Linked DNA regions of Homo sapiens. The protein of the gene in region 2 binds, or shares a complex with, the protein of the main gene of each other region. Each region holds a gene or a part of one and is shown on either strand. Other genes may lie near its edges. The genes, in order: EIF3J and EIF3B. A codon is read from its position in the direction of its gene.

Region 1 (9,218 bases), on a different chromosome or scaffold from region 2:
GCCAAGATGGTGAAACCCCGTCTCTACTAAAAATACAAAAATTAGCTGGGTGTGGTGGTGGGCGCTTGTAATCCCAGCTACTCGGGAGGCTGAGGCAGAGAACTGCTTGAACCTGGGAGGCGGAGGTTGCAGTGAGCCAAGATCGTGCCACGGCACTCCAGCCTGGGTGACAGAGCAAGACTCTATCTCAAAAAAAAAAAAAAGAAAAAAATATGTAAATTAGCTGGGCACGGCGGTGCACACCTGTAATCCCAGCTACTAGAAAGGCTGAGGCTGGAGAATCACTTGAATCCGGGAGGCGGAGGTTGCAGAGATCGTGCCACTGCACTCCAGCCTGGGAAACGGGGTGAGACCTTCTCTCAAAAAATTAGATGAATAGATAGATTGCTTTAAGTTAAAAAAAAAAAAAAAAAAGAAAAAGAAATTTAGCACTAAAACAGCAACTGGGGCCGGGTGTGGTGGCTCACGCCTGTAATCCCAGCACTTTGGGAGGCCAAGGCGGGCAGATCACAAGGTCAGGAGATTGAGACCATCCTGGCTAACACGGTGAAACCCCGTCTCTACTAAAAATAGAAAAAATTAGCCGGGCGTGGTGGTGGGCACCTGTAGTCCTCGGGAGGCTGAGGCAGGAGAATGGAGTGAACCTGGGAGGCGGAGCTTGCAGTGAGCGGAGATTGTGCCACTGCACTCCAGCCTGGGTGACAGAGCGAGACTCCATTTCCAAAAAAAAAAGAGCAACTGGACAAGATAATCTTTGTGGTCCCTTACAACTTGTAAATATCCAAAACTTGTTCCAAGTGATCAGAATTATATTCATCAGAGGCTGGGTACGGTAGCTCACGCCTATAATTCCAGCACTTTGGGAGGCTAAGGCAGGAGAATCACCTGAGGTCAGAAGTTCAAGACCAGCCTGGGCAACATGGCGAAACCCCGTCTCTACTAAAAATACAAAATTAGCCAGGCGTGGTGGTGCGTGCCTGTAATCCCAGCTACTTGGGAGGCTGAAGCAGGAGAATCACTTGAACCCAGGAGGTGGAGGTTGCAGTGAGCCAAGATCGCGCCATTGCACTCCAGCCTGGGCAACAAGAGCGAAACTCCATCTCAAAAAAAAAAAAAAAAAGAATTATATTCATCAAGATCGATACCATTTAGATCCCTTAATCCCAAGGAAGTTATTCCATGACATTAGTCTAGACTATCCATTAAAACTTCATTTTCTGCAACTTCTTTCCTAATATCTCTAATCTTTTCTCTGCATTTGTTAATTTATTCCCAAATTTCATAACAGATGTCTTAACTGCCACTTCCTATATGCATGGAAAAAAATGAAAGGACCAATATGAACCCAAGGCTCAAAACTGAAAATCTGCTACAATGTAGAGGGGTAACTAATATCTTGTAATGCGGCTGGTAACAAAATCTAGTCCCATGTTTCTACAACATGTAAATAAAGCATCTGAGTGTCTTCAAACAATAACCAGTCGATTTATTAACTTCAATGTGTGCAAAGCTCACAACATTCTTGAACCTCAGGCTGTCAGTAAATCGGACATCCACACATCCAACCTCATCGGACTGGGGAGAGAACAGAAAAACTCAAAACAACATTCCTATTAAGTTCATAGTGATTATCTAGCTTAAACTTTTCAGCCCAGGCAGGATTTATAGGGTTCTCCGTTTGTGTTTATAAATTAGGAGAAATTCACTAAATTAGGCAAAACCACAAAAAAAAATCATTTTCCATTTCACACAAAACTTTATCTGCACAAATATAACAAGATTTTGAGAACTTTGTTAATAAGAGTCTTAACATTTTGGATTTGAGACTTCTGTAACTACTGTAAAAAAAAAAAAAAACCATGTAGAAGTAAATGTCACTTACAGCTGTATAATGAACCCTTCGGAGTTTTCAAAATCAAACGACTGAGGTAAAAATGATTATCTACAAGGCACAGACAAAACAACAACAACAACAAAAAACCACGGGCCCGTCATCTACAACCACCACCAAATCTTCAATATTTCCTTAGGTGTCGTATGTGTGTAGTTGAGTAACTGTCGTCTCTCCATTTCTCAGGTCACGGTGTGAACTACCTGGGTTTCTGTCCACTAACTGCGGGCTATCTCAGTGGTCAGTTCATTCTTTTTACCACAGGGTGGGGGAAGGGAGAGCCAAAAGTTATTTCCCTTTACTGTTTCTAGCTGTCTCGTGTGGGAAAAAAAGGTTGAAATTCAACTACAATATTTCACTCATCTAATCCCTCGAACAAACTGTATAAGTAGACCTCAGGGTCATAAATGAGTTACTGGCCCTGGGCTGACTTGAGCTCGAAAAGACAGGCGAGTCTCAAGGCTTTCCATATGGATAAGCTACAAGGCTCAATTCCCAACTTCCCGGTCTCATTCCTGCGAGAGGCTCCGGACCGCGAAGCTTGCACGTGGGCCGACCCGGCCGATGCTGTCACCTTTCGTCGCCAGCCGGCGGGTGGGATCCACGCCGGAGAGCAGACTCTCAACCGGCGAGGGAGTCCGGGAGGCCACGCTGCCAGTCTTCGGCCCACACATGGCCGGCAAGCGGAGGGGAAGAGAGCACCGCCAGGCCCTATGCTCGCGCCTGGACCCACGGCCCGCAGGCCCCGGCAGCGACCCGGGGCCCAGAGTCGGCCGGCAACAGCGCCAGCCCGCTTCCGCGCTGCCCGGCGCCCTAGCCCGCACCCACCTTGACGTCCTCGTCCTCGTCCTCGCCTTCCCAGCGGTCCCCGCCGGCAGTGCCGCCGCCCCCCACCTTCCGCACTGGGTCTTCCACGGAGAAAGCGTCGGCGTCTACGGAAGAAAGCGAGCCGTGTTAGTGCCTGCCACTGCGTGGGGCCGGCGCCGGCCCGGGCCCTGCCCCAGCAACTTCTCCTCACCCCAGGAGTCCGAGTCCCCCGCCGCCGCCGCCGCCGCCGCCATCTCGAGCCGGGTGTGAGCGTGTGTGAGAGGGAGAGCTAGCGAGGAGTTAGCACGGCGGAGGTGAGTCACTGGGTTTGCTCTCGTTGACCGGCGCGGAGCAGGATGGGACCGTGGCTGACTGTGCGCCGAGCCGAGGCCACGCCCCCTCAGGCGGCGGCGGCGACGCGCGCGGGTAAGAAGTGGGCGGGGAACGCGGTCGGTGGCGCTGCGGGGCTGAGGGAGAGGCGGAGGGGGGGGCGGAGGGGGGCGGAGGGAGGGGCGGAAAGAGCAGAGGGAGGGGCACAGGGGGCTGAGGAGTGCTGGGTCGGGCTTCCAGCTCCCTACAACGCAGACCAGTACTGGAGTTCGTGGTGCTGGAAGACCGCCGCCCGACTCTGGGCCCCGGGTAGGAAACGTAAGTGCCAGGAAGTTAGCAGAGTGGTTCTTTGGCTGGCGCCTGAACCTCGCCAGTCTTCGTCGCCCCTCCCCTGCCAACGCCTACCCCGCTTCGACCGGAGGGTGCGCTGTCCCTCTGGTCACTGTGATCACCGTCCATGGCCGCCTGCGGATACCCACGCCGTGCTCAGAAGAGGGCTCTGAGGCCACGCCCGCCTGTGGGGTCGGTGGCCGGGCTTCCGGGACCCCAGAGGGAGTCGTCGCGCGCTAGGTGGAGGGGACCCCTCTGGAATCCGGCGATCCCCGGGCGCAGATGCAGGAGCGGGTGGGGAGAGCCGCGTTCCTGGCATGTTTGCCTCGAGTTAGTCACGAAGGAATCGAAGAGAGCCTTAGTCTTCGAGGCTTTTCCCTTCCTGTGAGCCCCTTTGAGGCCAGCACATTGATTTTTTTTTCTTTCGCAGAACAATTTCGGACCTCCTGGGGTCTATGCTAGGTATGAGGTGTATCTTTGCCCTCCATCAAGTAGCAAAGATGGACATGTAAACAAATTTCGACACTGTGATGACTGCCACAAAAAGCAGCATTATGAGGTTGAATGTAAAAGGATAACCTTAGCGGCGGCGGGGGCCGGAGGATGAAGGAAGGCTTCCTGAGGTAGGCGCTGGTTGAAACTGAAGTTGGAGAGAGCAAGTGGCATTTGCTGAAGTGCATTTCCGGTAGAAAACTCCAGTGGTCCCTCACCTGACTGAGTGGCGCAGTCAGAGATAAATGGAACAGGTACACTGACCAGAAAGGGCAAGATGGGCTAAACTTCGCCGTTGGGCCACTGGGCTCCCCCGCAGGATTTTAAAGAGCTAGCCAGTAGATGGATTTTGTTTTTGTTATTTTCGCAATTTATTTTCAAATATGTAATACGCGAACTTGGTACAACATTCATGTGATAAAAAGGTAGATACGTGGGCAGGACGCGGTGGCTCACGCCTGTAATCCCAGCATTTTGGGAGGCCGAGATGGGCGGATCATTTGCTGTCAGGAGTTCGAGACCAGCCTGGCCAACATGGTAAAACCCCACCTCTACTAAAAATACAAAAATCACCTGGGCGTGGTGGCGGGCGCCTGTAATCCCCACTACTAGGGAGGCTGAGGCAGGAGAATCGCTTGAACCCGGGAGGCGGAGGTTGCAACAGTGAGCCGAGATCGCGCCACGGCTCTCCAGCCTGGGCGACAGTTAGACCCGTCTCAAAAAAAAAAAAAAAACAAAAAAGGTAGATACAACGATCAGCTGCTCCGCTCCGTTCTTTCTAGTGGTAACCATTGTTCCCCCTTTCTGGTGTTATCTTTTCAGAGTCTACAAATAAACATTTTATAAAGATGATCCTTCAATACATATTCTACAGCCCAGTTAAAATGTGAGAGGCCATGATCTACAGACAGCCATTTATAAAGGTGGATCAGGGCCGGACACGGTGGCTCAACGTCTGTAATCCCGGCACTGTGGGAGGCCAAAGCGGGAGGATCGCTTGAGCCCAGGAGTTCGAGACCAACCTGGCCAACATGGTGAGACCCCATCTTTACAAAAAAATATATATATCCAGGCATAGTGGTGTGCACCTGTGGTCCTGTGGTCCCAGCTACTCAGGAAGCTGAGGCAGTTGAGGCTGCAGTGAGCCACGTTCTGGCCACTACACTCCAGCCTGGGCATCAAAGTGACAAGACCAAAAAAAAAAAAAAATGTGGATTGGAAGGAGGCAAGAAAGAAGTCAGGAAAAGGGTGGAATGTAAGTCCCTAAGGACACAATCTTACTCACAATTGTATCTCCAACATTTGGCATAATGCCTAATACGTAAGTATTTTATGAATTAATTAAACGAGAACACAAGCCTAAATTAAGGCAATGGCAATGGAGAAGAAGAAACCAACTTGAGAAATATTTAAAGGTCATTGTCAATGGAACTTAGTGACTTTAATGGTTAATTTTATCTATCAACTTGGCTAGGCGATGCTACCCATGTTACTCAGTTTTTGGTCAAACACTAGTCTAGTTGTTGCTATGAATTGTATTTGTTAGATGTGATTAACATTTAAATCAGCAGACTTTGATTAAAGTACATTACCCTCTATAATGAGGGTGGGCCGCATCCGGTCAGTTCAAATTAAAACGAGACCCTTAAGAAGAAGCAATTCAGCCTCCAGACTGCAGCGTCAAATCTCCCTGGGTCTCCAGGCTGTTTGTCTGCCCTGCAGATTTCAGACTTGCCAGCTCCCAGAATAATGTGAGCCAATTCCTTAAAATAAATCTCTTTCTGCATATACACATCCTATTGATTCTGTTTCTCTGGAGAACCCGTACTAATATAGTGTCTGACTAGATATGAAGGAGGAGGGGAAGGGAGAAATAGATAGACGATGCCTTTGGATATTGAGTGACACTTATCTAGTTGCTTAAGTCAAAAACCTGAAAACTGGTTAGGCACGCCTATTACGGGCTCACGCCTGTAATCCCAGCACTTAGGGAGGCTGAGGCAGGCAGATCATTTGAAGTAATTCAAGACCAGCCTGGCCAACATGATGAAACCCCAAGACCACTAAAAATACAAAAATTAGCCGGGCGTGGTGGCACATGCCTGTAACCCCAGCTCCTCAGGAGGCTAAAGCAGGAAAATTGCTTGAACCCAGGAAACAGAGGTTGCAGTGAGCCGAGATTGTGCTACTCCACTCCAGCCTGGGAGAGACTCCATCTGAAAACAAACAACAAAAAAAAATGCTGGGCACAGTGGCTCACGCCTGTAATCCCAGCACTTTAGGAGGCTGAGGCGGGCGGATCACCTGAGGTCAGGAGTTCAAGACCAGCCTGGCCAATGTGGCAAACCCCATCTCTACTAAAAATAAAAAAAAAATTAGCTGGGCATGTTGGCGGGCACCGTAATACCAGCTACTCGGGAAGATGAGGCAGGAGAATCACTTGAACCGGGAGGCAGAAGTTGCAGTGAGCTAAGATCGCGCCATTGCACTTTAGCCTGGGCGACGAGCGAAACTCCCTCTCAAAAAAAAAGAAGAAGGCTGGGCGCGGTGGCTCATGCCTGTAATCCCAGCACTTTGGGAGGCCGAGGTGGGTGGATCACTTGAGGTCAGTAGTTCGAGACTAGCCTGGACATGGTGAAACCTGTCTCTACTAAAAATACAAAAATTAGCCAGGTATAGTGGCTCATGCCTATAATTCCAGCTACTTGGGAGGTTGAGGCAGGACAATGGTTTGAACCCAGGAGGCAGAGGTTGTAGTGAGCTGAGATTGTGCCACTGCACTCCAGCCTGGATGACACTCTATCAAAAAAAAAAAAAAGAAAAGAAAAAAAAAAAAAAACTGGGGCATGTGGGTTGAAGGTGCTATGGAAAAATTCATGGGCTATGTGTATGCAGCATTGTTTTCAAAGCAGAAATTGAGAATTTATTTATAGTGGTGTGCATACTGCTTTTTCAAATGAGGAAACAGGAAAACAAGGTTCTAGACCTATGTATTAGGGACTTCCTTTAGTCTGTAAAACTTGTGCCAGGCGTGGTGGCTCACACCTGTAATCCCAGCACTTTGGGTGGCTGAGGCAGGTGGATCACCTGAAGTCAGGAGTTCCAAGACCAGGCTGGCCAACCTGGTGATACCCCCGTCTCTACTAAAAATACAAAAAAATAGCCGGATGTGGTGGTGCACTCCTGTAATCCCAGCTATTTGGAAGGCTGAGGCAGGAGAATCGCTTGAACCCAGGAGGCAGAGGTTGCAGTGAGCCAAGATCATGCCACTGCACCCAGCCTGGGCAACAGAGCGAGTCTCTGTCTCAAAACAAACACACAAAAAAACTTGTGATTCACAGGTTAGTCTCTAGGGGAGCTCTATAATCACAAAGACAGTGACAGTATTCCCATTTTACAGATGAGCAGACTAGGTAATCAATGTTTCTTAACAAATTAACATTAAAACTTCTGTCAGGAAGTTCCAGGCCAGGCACAGTGGCTCACATCTAAAATGCCGGCACTTAGGAAGGCTGAGGCAGGAGGATCACTTGAGCTCATTTCAAGACCAGCCTGGGCAACATGGCAAGACTCCATCTCTACAAAAAATAAAAAATTAGCTGGGCATGGTGGCACACACCTGTAGTTCCTGCTACTCAGGGGGCTGAAGTGGGAGGGCCACTTGAGCCTGGGAGGTTGAGGTTGCAGTGAGCCATGATCGTGCCACTGCACTCCAGCCTGGATGACAGAGCCAGCCCGTCTCAAAAAAAGTTTCCTCATGGCTGGGTGCAGTGGCTTATGCCTGTCATCCGAGCACTTTGGGAGGCAGAGACGGGTGGATCACCTGAACTCAGGAGTTCCACCAGCTACTCAGGAGGCTGAGGCAGGAGAATCACTTGAACCCAGGAGGTGGAGGTTGCAGTGAGCTGAGATCCCGCCACTGCACTCCAGACTAAGTAACAGAGTGAGACTTCATGTCAAAAAAAAAAAAAAAGTTTCATCATTGAAGCTATAGAAGAGTAAATAAACAACACAAATGAAGCAGAGCTACTTATAGGTTCTTTTTTTTGAGATGACATTTTGCTCTCGTTGCCCAGGCTGGCGCAATCTCTGCTCACGGCAACCTCTGCCTCCCAGGTTCCAGTGATTCTCCTGCCTCAGCCTCCTGAGCAGCTGGGATTACAAGTGTGTGCCACCATGCCCAGATAATTTTTTGTAGTTTTAGTAGAGATGGGTTTCATCGTGTTGGCCAGGCTGGTCTCGAACTCCTAACCTCAGGTGATCCCCCCGCCTCAGCCTCCCAAAGTGCAGGGATTACAGGTGTGAGCCATTGTGCCTGGCCTTAGAGTTCTTTTTTTTTTTTTTTTTTTTTTTTTTTGAGATGGACTCTCGCTCTGTTACCCAGGCTGGAGTGCAGTGGCACAATCTCGGCTCACTGCAAGATCCGCCTCCTGGGTTCACGCCATTCTCCTGCCTCAGCCTCCCGAGTAGCTGGGGCTACAGGTGCCCGCCACCGCGCCCGGCTAATTTTTTTTGTATTTTTAGTAGAGACGGGGTTTCACCGTGGTCTTGATCTCCTGACCTCGTGATCCGCCCGCCTCGGCCTTCCAAAGTGCTAGGATTACAGGTGTGAGCCATGCGCCCGGCCCCTTTATAGCTTCTTTTTAAGAGGAAGTACCTTAAGCATCAGACTCAAAATCTTATAAAGATGGACTAGGTTAAGGCTGAAGAGCAGATTGTTTTAATTGGAAATAGGGGCAGGTCAAAACTCCTATTTATAAAAGTGCAAAATTATGGAGTCATTGCATGTTTTTTCTAATGATTTCTTGGGAAAAAGAGTACATGTAAAAACAAATTTTGGCAGAGCACAGTGGCTCATGCCTGTAATCCCAGAACTTTGGGAGGCCAAGGCAGGCGGGTGGATCACTTGAGGTCAGGAGTTTGAGCCCAGCCTGGCCAACATGGTGAAACCCTGTCTCTACTAAAAATACAAAAATTGGCTGAGCATCATGGTGCACGCCTGTAGTCCCAGCTACTAGGGAGGCTGAGGCGGGAGAATCGCTGGAACCCGGGAGGCAGAGGTTGCAGGGAGCTGAGATCCCACCACTGCACTCCAGCCTGGACAACAGAGCAAGATTACATCTCAATAATTAAATAAATAAAGTTTTTGATTTATATGATTTGATTAAGTTAAATGAAATTTTTTATTTTAAACCAAAACGAAAAACCAAAACCCTACCCCCATGAGTCTTAAGACACGAAACTGTCTCCATTCAACTTCCATATATTTTTCCATACTTACAGGGTACCATAAAATCCTACAGTACCTTCCTATTCCTGTCTGGCCAGCGGAAAAAACATGCCTTCCTCAGGGAGTGCCTAAAATCCA
Region 2 (9,062 bases):
CCTTTTGGGTTTCTATGAAGATCTCATTATAGAGGCGTGATTAATGACATCACTGAGCACCGGTGATCAACTCAACTTTCAGCCCTCTTCCTTCTGGGTGGCAGGGGGAGACCTAAAAGGTCCCACCCTCTAATCACGTGGTTGGTTCCCTGGCAAGGAGCCCCAGCCATCAATCAAGTCCTCGTCTACAAAAAGACACTTACCACTTTGGAAATTACAAGGGTTTAGACGCTGAGTGCCAAGAGCCAGGCAGAGCCCAAATACACATTTCTTAATTATATCACAAAGAGCCTTTTTGAAAAACACTATCAGGGCAGAGACCGGCACTTAAACTAGGAGACTGGAGAATATACAAGCTCCTGAAACAACTTTTTTTTTTCTTTGTAAAGAGACAGGGTCTTGTTATGCTGCCCAGGCTAGCCTGGAACTCCTGGGCTCTAGCAATCCTCCTGCCTCAGCCTCCCAAGTAGCAGGGACTACAGGTGGGAGCTGCCACCCCCACTGAGATTAAATAACAGTATTTTTTTCTTAGTGGTAGGTGAAGCTGTTCTTGATGTGATGAAATGCCTCGCAGGGCTGCTGGAAAGCATCACGTGTCAGAATTTAGAACACGGCCAGGCTCAGTGGCTCACGCCTGTAATCCCAGCATTTTGGGAGGCCGAGGCAGGCAGATTACCTGAGGCCAGGAGTTCAAGACCAGCCTGGCCAACATGGTGAAACCTGTCCCTAATAAAAATACGAGAAAAATGATCCAAGCATGGTGGTGGGTGCCTGTAATTCCAGCTACTGGAGAGGCTGGGGCAGGAGAATCGCTTGAACCCAGGAGATGGAGGTTGCAGTGAGCCAAGATCATGCCACTGCACTCCAGCCTGGGAGACAGAGTGAGACTCCATCTCAAATAATAATAATAATGATAATTCCAACATACTAAATATGCAGATGTCCGAAAATATTCTTTACTGTATTTATTCTCAAAAGTTGGCTGGGCATGGTGGCTCACTCCAGCGACAGAGCAAGACTCCGTCTCAAAAAAACACTTTCGGAAATATTGAAAACTGACCCAGCATGGTGGCTCACGCCTGTAATCCCAGCATTTTTGGAAGCCAAGGAAGGCAAATCACATGAGGCCAGGAGTTCGAGACCAGCCTGGCCAACAAGGCAAAACCCCATCTGTATTAAAAATACAAAAAGTAGCCAGGCATGGTGGCACATGCTTATAATCCCAGCTACTTGGGAGGCTGAGGCAGGAAAATCGCTTGAAGCGGGGAGGCAGAGGCTGCGGTGAGCCATTGCACTCCAGTCTGAGCAAGAGAATGAGACTCTGTCTCAAAAAAAAAAAGGAAATATTGAAAATACTGCCTTAAAAAATAATCGCCGTTTTATTTTCAACGATGCTAAAATTGAGACGAACAAGAGAAAAAAAAAGGGAAAAAGGCAGTTGCCAGTCACTGCAGTGCCGGACACCCTGCTATGGAAACTAGTCAAATCCTAGGGTAACTTCTAAAGCACTTACCATACAATTAAATAGCCTGACAAGCCTGATCTGAATTTATAAGGCTGCAATAAAAAGCTCAACTTTTACACAAATTGGGTACTCCTTCCCACAAGCTCAAAGCGTCTAGTCTAGGAGAAACTGCCCACACGTAGGAAGGAAATAAATGAAGTAACTACACCATGAAGACACAACGCCTTGATCACTCTCAGCCCAAGCATCGGTTACACGTGGCTCATGGATTCCCAAGCGGTCTCCAGGAAAAACAGAAGAGAACAATTCTCAACACTAAATAGCAAATAGAAAGAGAAAGAATAGTTAATGAGCCAAAAAAGACATTTAGAGTTAAAATCCTGGATCAGCTGAAACATTAAACTGAAAGGATGATTACAGTTTGAGAAGCTAATCTGTACCAAAAAAGTAATAAAGCAAGACAGGGACTCCAGGCCACCTCTGGCCTGCTCCTTGGAAGACTTGGCCCTTCTGGAAAGAACTGATACAGTCACCTACGGTCTTGCACAATGACCCTGAAGGGCAGCTCTTCTCATAAAGCACAAAACCTGCGTTACCACAACCAGGAGGGCCATGACAAAGTCGGCTTCCTGAGCCTTAGTCCTCAGGACCAGATGCCTCACCTGTCACTCTGGCCAACACTGCACCTTCAGGGCCACGTGGGCCCGCTGAGGACCCACAGCCGTCACCCAGCCTGGCCAACCCTGTCGTCATATTAGCATCCTCTGACTCTTCCCAATTCCAGAAGTAATCTACGTATTAGAAATCTGTGAATTCGATGGGCTCAAATAATGCTTTTTAAAAAAGTAGCAGAATATCCAAGGGCTCAAAATAATCATTAAACCAAAAGTTTTGATTTTTAAACCATAATAACAATTGAAGCGTTAGAAAGAACACTGTTCTGAGCAGGAGAGTCTGGTGGGCCAAGCAGTATAGACCCACTGGGAATTCTCAGCAGCCTACTCCACCTTCAGGGACAAGTTTCCTCAGGACTGAGGGGCGTAGACTAGATGTTCCCAAAGTCTTTAGTTTGTGGTGTCCTTCCTGCTTTTCATGCTAAAATGTCTTTTATGAAAAAAAAAAGTGTAATATAGTAATGGTCACAGTAACTGACAGCGTTTTTATTTTTTAATTTTTCACTTTTTGAGACAGGGTCTCACTCTGTCGCCCAGGCAGTGGTGGGATCTAGGCTCACTGCAACCTCCACCTCCTGGGTTAAAGTGATTCTCGTGCCTCAGCCTCCCAAGTACCTGAGACTACAGGTGTGCACCAGCACACCTGGCTGACTTGTATTTCTGATAACCTTTTTTTCTTTTTCTTTTTTTTTTTTTTTTGAGACGGAGTCTTGCTCTGTCGCCCAGGATGGAGTGCAGTGGCAGGATCTCGGCTCACTGCAAGCTCCGCCTCCCAGGTTCACACCATTCTCCTGCCTCAGCCTCCAGAGTAGCTGGGAAATCCAGGTGCCCGCCACCACGCCCGGCTAATTTTTTTTTATTTTTAGTAGAGACGGGGTTTCACCGTGTTAGCCAGGATGGTGACCTCGTGATCCACCCGTCTCGGCCTCCCAAAGTGCTGGGATTACAGGCGTGAGCCACCCAGCCCGGCCCTCTGATAGCCTTTTAAAAATACGTTTAAATCATAAATTGGCAACTCCATGTTATTCCCGAAATTGTCCTGGTGTATCGCTGGCTACATCAGCAAGGGTATTTTTATTTTTCTCACTCTAGTATCAACTTAGCCAATCTGCAGAGGCTGATGTGTTCCCAACTTAAAGGCTTAAGAGAGCTAAAAAACAAAAGAAAAACAAATGAGACCAGCTCTCATCAGAAGTAGCTTCAGGAAAAAATCTCTGAGACAGGAAGCAAAAATATGCCTGTAAATCCAATCAAGGTTGAGATGAAGGCAAAGCTGGCTGTTATCGGCAATATTAAAACCTGGAAAAATAACTCTCTTTATAGATTTAGCGCAAGAGATAAAGAAAAATCAAACTGGAATTTCACAGGGTGCCTGTCCCACTAAGGAAGTCTCTGGAGATGGACAATTCTGAGGGGCAGGAGGACAAAATCACCGGCTCTGCCACAAGCTGTTCCTCCGATCCAGACCTTGGGAGGTCTGACTGGTCAGCTCTGGGGACACGTAGACCCGCAAACCTGCCACCGGGTCTTCGGTTTTTGCCGTACCCCCAGCTGCTACACTCACAGCACACCCAGCCATAACGGAGTACCCCATGTGCCCTCTCCCACCCTCTCAGATTTCTGGTTGTCATGCAAATGCCTGGCTCCCGAAGTGAGCTCCACCCTGTCCCCTTTTTCAGGAAAGAAAAGGGGAGGCGCTGGGCTCTCAGAACACTTCCAGGGCACTCGGGAACCCCTCCCTCGGTGGCTTCTCAGGAACACACGGACACCCTCGCTGGAACTTCTGCACGAACCGGTGGCACAGCCCGACGATATCTCCCACCTCGGGAACCCCAGCCACGCTCCCGCGCCGCTCGCCAGCCCCGCCCCGGGCGCCCTCACCTTCCTCGCTCACGTCGTCCACGAAGTCCTCGGGGTCGCTGAAGGAGGGCTCGTCCGCGTCGCCGTTCTCCAGCGCCCGGGGTTCGGCCTCGGCCGCTCTGCCCTCGTTTCCTCCCGCGTCCTCGGACACCGCCTGGGCCCGGCTGTCGGAGCGCTCGTCCCGAGCCTGCTCTCCTGGGGCCTCGCCCTGTGCCGGGACAGGGGGCTCAGCATGCGACCCGGGCAGCTCCTCGGCGGCCGGCGGCGAGGGCGACTCGGACGGGCCGGAGGCCGCCTCTGCCTCGGCCGCCGGCTCGGTCCTCACCTCGGACTCCGGCCCGGCCTCCGCGATCCCCACCTCCTCACTGGAGGCCTCGGTCCCCGCGGCCTCCGGAGCGCCGGGCCCCGCGGGCCGCAGCAGCCCCTCGGCTGGCGGCGGCTCGGCGGCCGGCTGCTGCTGGCCGGGCTCGGCGCGCTCCTCGGCCGCCTCGGGCACCGCCACGTTCTCCGCGTCCTGCATGGGCCCAACGCTGCCTACTCGCAGGGCTCCGCGGCCGCCGCGCTTCCGACTCTCCCAGGCCGCACCGCGCGCCGCGACGGCTACAGCCCAGCCATGTGCGTGCGACGGGGAGGCCGCACCAAGGCCGCGGGGCGGGGGGCGCACCCACGCCCTGGGGCCTCACGAACGACCCTGAGAGGACTCGCATCCACAAGACCGCGCCCGAAAATCATCAAACTGATATATTTGTGACAAGAAAGTGCTTAATTCCATTCAGCAAGGTTGTTTCTGTGCATCAGTAAACTCATGGGAGCATTGACCACCCCATGTGTGGCAGCAGATGGTTCCGTCCAACATGGCGTCCTCCCCCTTTCCTTTCCCGTCGGACGCTGCGGGGCGGGACTGAACTATTTGTGGAGCTGAAGGCGGGGACAAGAAATGATTTTAGTACCCGGAATGCTAGGAAAATGTCCTCTAACTCAACAGTTAATACCCTGGAAGAGTGGAGACTCAACAGGCGATTGCTCAGGGCGTCTGAGCCTTTCGCTAGGGAAACCGTTTAGTTTACGTTACTAAAGTCCCCCCTGTCCGTGTCTGTCACTTGGACTCGCCTACTGACTGAGCAAAAGGACAGACTACTTCAAAATAGAAAAGGAATTCGGGGCGAGCCAGAGAGGGCCCACACGACTAGAAGGACGACTGCCTGGCGCGATACAAAAATGTATGGAAGTTTCTTTAATCGCTTACCCCCAGTCCTTCCCTAGCGGCCGTCACTGCCTGTTTCCCCCCATTCGGGCTTTCACAGTGGTTCAGTCCATCCGAGGCCGCCGCCTTCAGCGCGGGACAGCGCGGGTCACGTGGGGGCGGGGGCGGGTCCTCGCCGCGTGGAGCTCGAGGCTGACTCCGGAGGGACCGGAGCGGTTCGCTCTGCGCGGGTGCTCACGGGACGGGCATTGGGTGCATGTGGCTTCTATCTTGTTTTTTGCCGGAGTGGAGGACAACCACTGGTTGGGGGATGTCTTAATCATCCTAGAAAACAACCCAGTGGATCACGCCTGTTATCCCAGCACTTTGGGAGGCTGAGGTGGGAAGATCGCTTGAGCTTAGGAGTTGGAGACCAGCCTTGCCAACATAGCACCACCACCCCCCGCACGCCAGCCCTCATCTCTACGAAAATTAAATAAATAAATAAAACAGGTGGTACCCAGAGGCTGGGGTGGAGAGTGGGGAGTGTTTATCGGGGACGGACCTTCAATTTGGGAGGATGAGAACGTTTTGGAGATGACGGTGGTGATGGTACAACATGGTGAATGTACTTGATGCCACTGAACTGTATACTAAACTTCATATTAAAATGGCTAGGCCCTGCGCGGTGGCTCACACCTCTCTTCCCAGTACTTTGGGAGGCCAAGACAGGAGGATCACTTGAGCCCAAGAGTTCAAGACCAGTCAGGGCAACATAGCGAGACCCTGTCTTCGAAAAAATAAAATAAAATGCCAAAAAGGTAAATTTTATGTATATTTCATCCTATAGTTTTTTTGTTTTGTTTGTTTTCAGAGATAGGGTCTCGCTCTGTTGCCCAGGCTAGAGTGCGGTGGCATAATCACAGCGCCGCTGCAATCGGGACCTTCCAGCCTCAAGAGAATCCTCCCACCTCAGCCTCCCAAAGTGCCAGGATTACAAGCGTGAACCACCGCGCAGGGCCTAGCCATTTTAATATGCAATTTAGTGTACAGTTCAGTGACATTAAGTACATTGCCAAGTACTTGGGACTGAAGGTATGTGCCACCGTGCCCAGCTAATTTCTTTATTTGTAGATAGCATCTCACTGTGTTGCCCAGGCTGGTCTCAAACTCCTGGCCTCAAGCAGTCTTCCTCCCTCAGCTTCCCAAAGTGCCGGGACTATAGGCATGAGCCACCACACCCATCCCATCCTAACGGTGTTTAAAAGAGCGAAAAAGAAGCAGAGTCTTCCCATGCCTAGTACCAGGTTTGACTACTCCTCATCATGCTGTCAGTGGTGTATCTTTGGGCAGGTCACTTAATGCCTCCACCTCAGTTTCCGCATCTGTACAATAAGGGATGACAATTTTTTTTTTTTTTATTTAGACGGAGTGTTGCTCTGTCGCCTAGGCTGGAGTGCAGTGGCACGATCTCGGCTCACTGCAAGCTCCACCTCCCGGGTTCACGCCATTCTCTTGCCTCAGCCTCCCAAGTAGCTGGGAATACAGGTGCCCGCCACCACGCCTGGCTGATTTTTTTTGTATTTTTTTAGTAGAGACGAGGTTTCACCGTATTAGCCAGGATGGTCTCGATCTCCTGACCTTGTGATCCGCCTGCCTCGGCCTCCCAAAGTGCTGGGATTACAGGTGTGAGCCAATACGCCTGGGAGTATGTTTTTTCTACATATGCATGCTTACAATAGGGCACAGTAAGAGATTAACAGCAATAACTAATAGAACAATTATAACAATATATTGTCATAAAAGTTATGTGGATGTGGTGTCTGGTGGTGTGTCTGTGTCTCTCTCTGTCAAATTTTCTTCATTATGTAATATTTTCCAACCTAATTGACCATAAGTAACTGAAACAGTGCAATGTGAAACTGGGGGTCGGGGGGGCTACTGTGTTTGGAAGCAGTCTTCCCAGATGTAATCAAGATGAAGTCAAAGTGGACGAGAGTGGACCCTAAATCAGTGATTGATGTCCTTATTAGAAGAAGGAAATTATGGCCGGGCATGGTGGCTCACACCTGTAATCCCAGCACTTTGGGAGGCCAAGGTGGGCGGATGCATTACATGAGGTCAGGAGTTCGAGACCAGCCTGAACAACATGGTGAAACCCCATCTCTACTAAAAATACAAAAATTAGCCAGGCATGGTGGCACATGCCTGTAATCTCAGCTACTCAGGAGGCTGAGGCGGGAGAATCACTTGTACCCTGGAGGCAGAGGGCGTAGTGAGCGGAGATTGCACCATTTCACTCCAGCCTGGGCAACGAGCAAAAATCCATCTCAAAAAAAAAAAAAAAAAAAAACCAACAACAACAACAAAAACTTACTCGATTTTTTGTTTTTATTATTATCTTTATTTATTTATTTATTTATTTTTTGAGATGGAGTCTCACTCTGTCGCCCAGGCTGGAGTGCAGTGGTGCTATCTCGGATCACTGCAAGCTCCACCTCCCGGGTTCAAGCAATTCTCCTGCCTCAGCCTCCCGAGTAGCTGGGACTACAGGCGCCTGCCACCACACCCGGCTAATTTTTTGTATTTTTAGTAGAGACGGGTTTCATCCTGTTAGTCAGGATGGTCTCACTCTCCTGACCTCGTGATCCGCCCGCCTTGGCCTCCCGAAGTGCTGGGATTACAGGCGTGAGCCACTGCGCCTGGCCTATTATTATTTTTTAACAGGGTCTCACTCTGTCACCCAGGCTGGAGTACAGTGGTGCCGTCGCACCTCACTGTAGCTTCAGTCTCACAGGCTCACCTTAGCTTCCTGAGTATCTGGTAGTACAGATCCACACCACCACATCGGGCTACCTTTTTGTTTTTCTGTAGAGATGGGGTCTCACTATGTTGCTCAGTCTGGTCTTCAACTCCTGGGCTCAAGCAGTTCTCCCAACTCTGCCTCCCAAAGTGCTACAGGCATGAGCCAGCAGGCCTGGCCTCCGCTGGTCTATTTCTGAGCCTCTGAGGTGAAGGAGTGGGAAACCTGAGGCACCGCACCAACCCTGGCAGCAGAGATGGCCGGATGAGGCTCCCAGGCTGACCTGCAGCGTGGCCTGTGTTGTGCTTCCAGGGGTAGATTTTTTTCTTTTTGTTTTTGAGACAAGGTCTCACTCTGTCACCCAGGCCGGGAGCACAGTGGCGCAATCATGGCTCACTGCAGCCTCAAACTCCCAGGCTCGTGATCCTCCCGCCGCCTCCTCCTGAGTAGTTGAGACTATAGGCGTGCACCACTGTGCCCGGCTAATTTTTTAAATTGTTTATTTAGAGAGCGAGGCACAGTGGCTCCCACCGGTAATCCCAGCACTTTGGGAGAGTGAGGCAGGAGGATCACTTGAGGTCAGGAGTTCAAGACTAGCCTGGCCAACATGGTGAAACCCTATCTCTACTAAAAATACAAAATTTAGCCGGGTGTGGCCGCAGGCGCCTGTAATCCCAGCTACTCAGGAGGCTGAGGCAGGAGGATCACTTGAGCCCAGGAGGCAGAGGCTGCAGTGAGCCGAGGTTGTGCCACTGCACTCCAACCTAAATGACAGAGTGAGACTCTGTGTCAAAAAAAAAAAATTGTTTTTAGAGATGGGGGAGAGTGTCTCACTGTTAGCCCAAGCTGGTCTTGAACTCCTGGCTTAGAGCAAACCTTCTGCGTTGGCCTCCCAAAGTGCTGGGATTATAGGCATGAGCCACCGCGCTCGGCCCAGGGGTAAGCTTTAATTTCCCTCAAAACTCTTTCTAAAGAAACGTGACTTCATTTTAAGGCCAAATTTATAGTTTCCGTGAAATTATAAGTTTTATGGGTTTGTTGCATTTCTATTGATATTAACATTGGTTCATAACTATG

The links.
Region 1: the proteins of EIF3B (region 2) and EIF3J are in contact, whole or in part, in an NMR structure (PDB 2KRB), measured with the Homo sapiens proteins. Residues at the interface, in NP_001032360.1 of Homo sapiens: Lys202, Asn205, Val206, Ile207, Lys209, Ile210, Lys213, Asn249, Ala250, Asp251, Gly252, Tyr253, Lys254, Leu255, Phe261; in NP_003749.2 of Homo sapiens: Asp45 (codon at 2,734), Glu46 (codon at 2,731), Asp50, Asn51, Trp52, Asp53, Asp54, Asp55.

What each region holds. Positions count from the first base shown.
Region 1 is NC_000015.10:44,530,929-44,540,146, reverse strand, and holds the start of EIF3J (eukaryotic translation initiation factor 3 subunit J), read right to left. Parts: upstream 3,001-9,218; 5' UTR 2,953-3,000; coding exon 2,910-2,952; intron 2,824-2,909; coding exon 2,720-2,823; intron 1-2,719. UniProt on the Homo sapiens protein: Component of the eukaryotic translation initiation factor 3 (eIF-3) complex, which is required for several steps in the initiation of protein synthesis.
Region 2 is NC_000007.14:2,350,379-2,359,440, reverse strand, and holds the start of EIF3B (eukaryotic translation initiation factor 3 subunit B), read right to left. Parts: upstream 4,615-9,062; 5' UTR 4,520-4,614; coding exon 4,021-4,519; intron 1-4,020.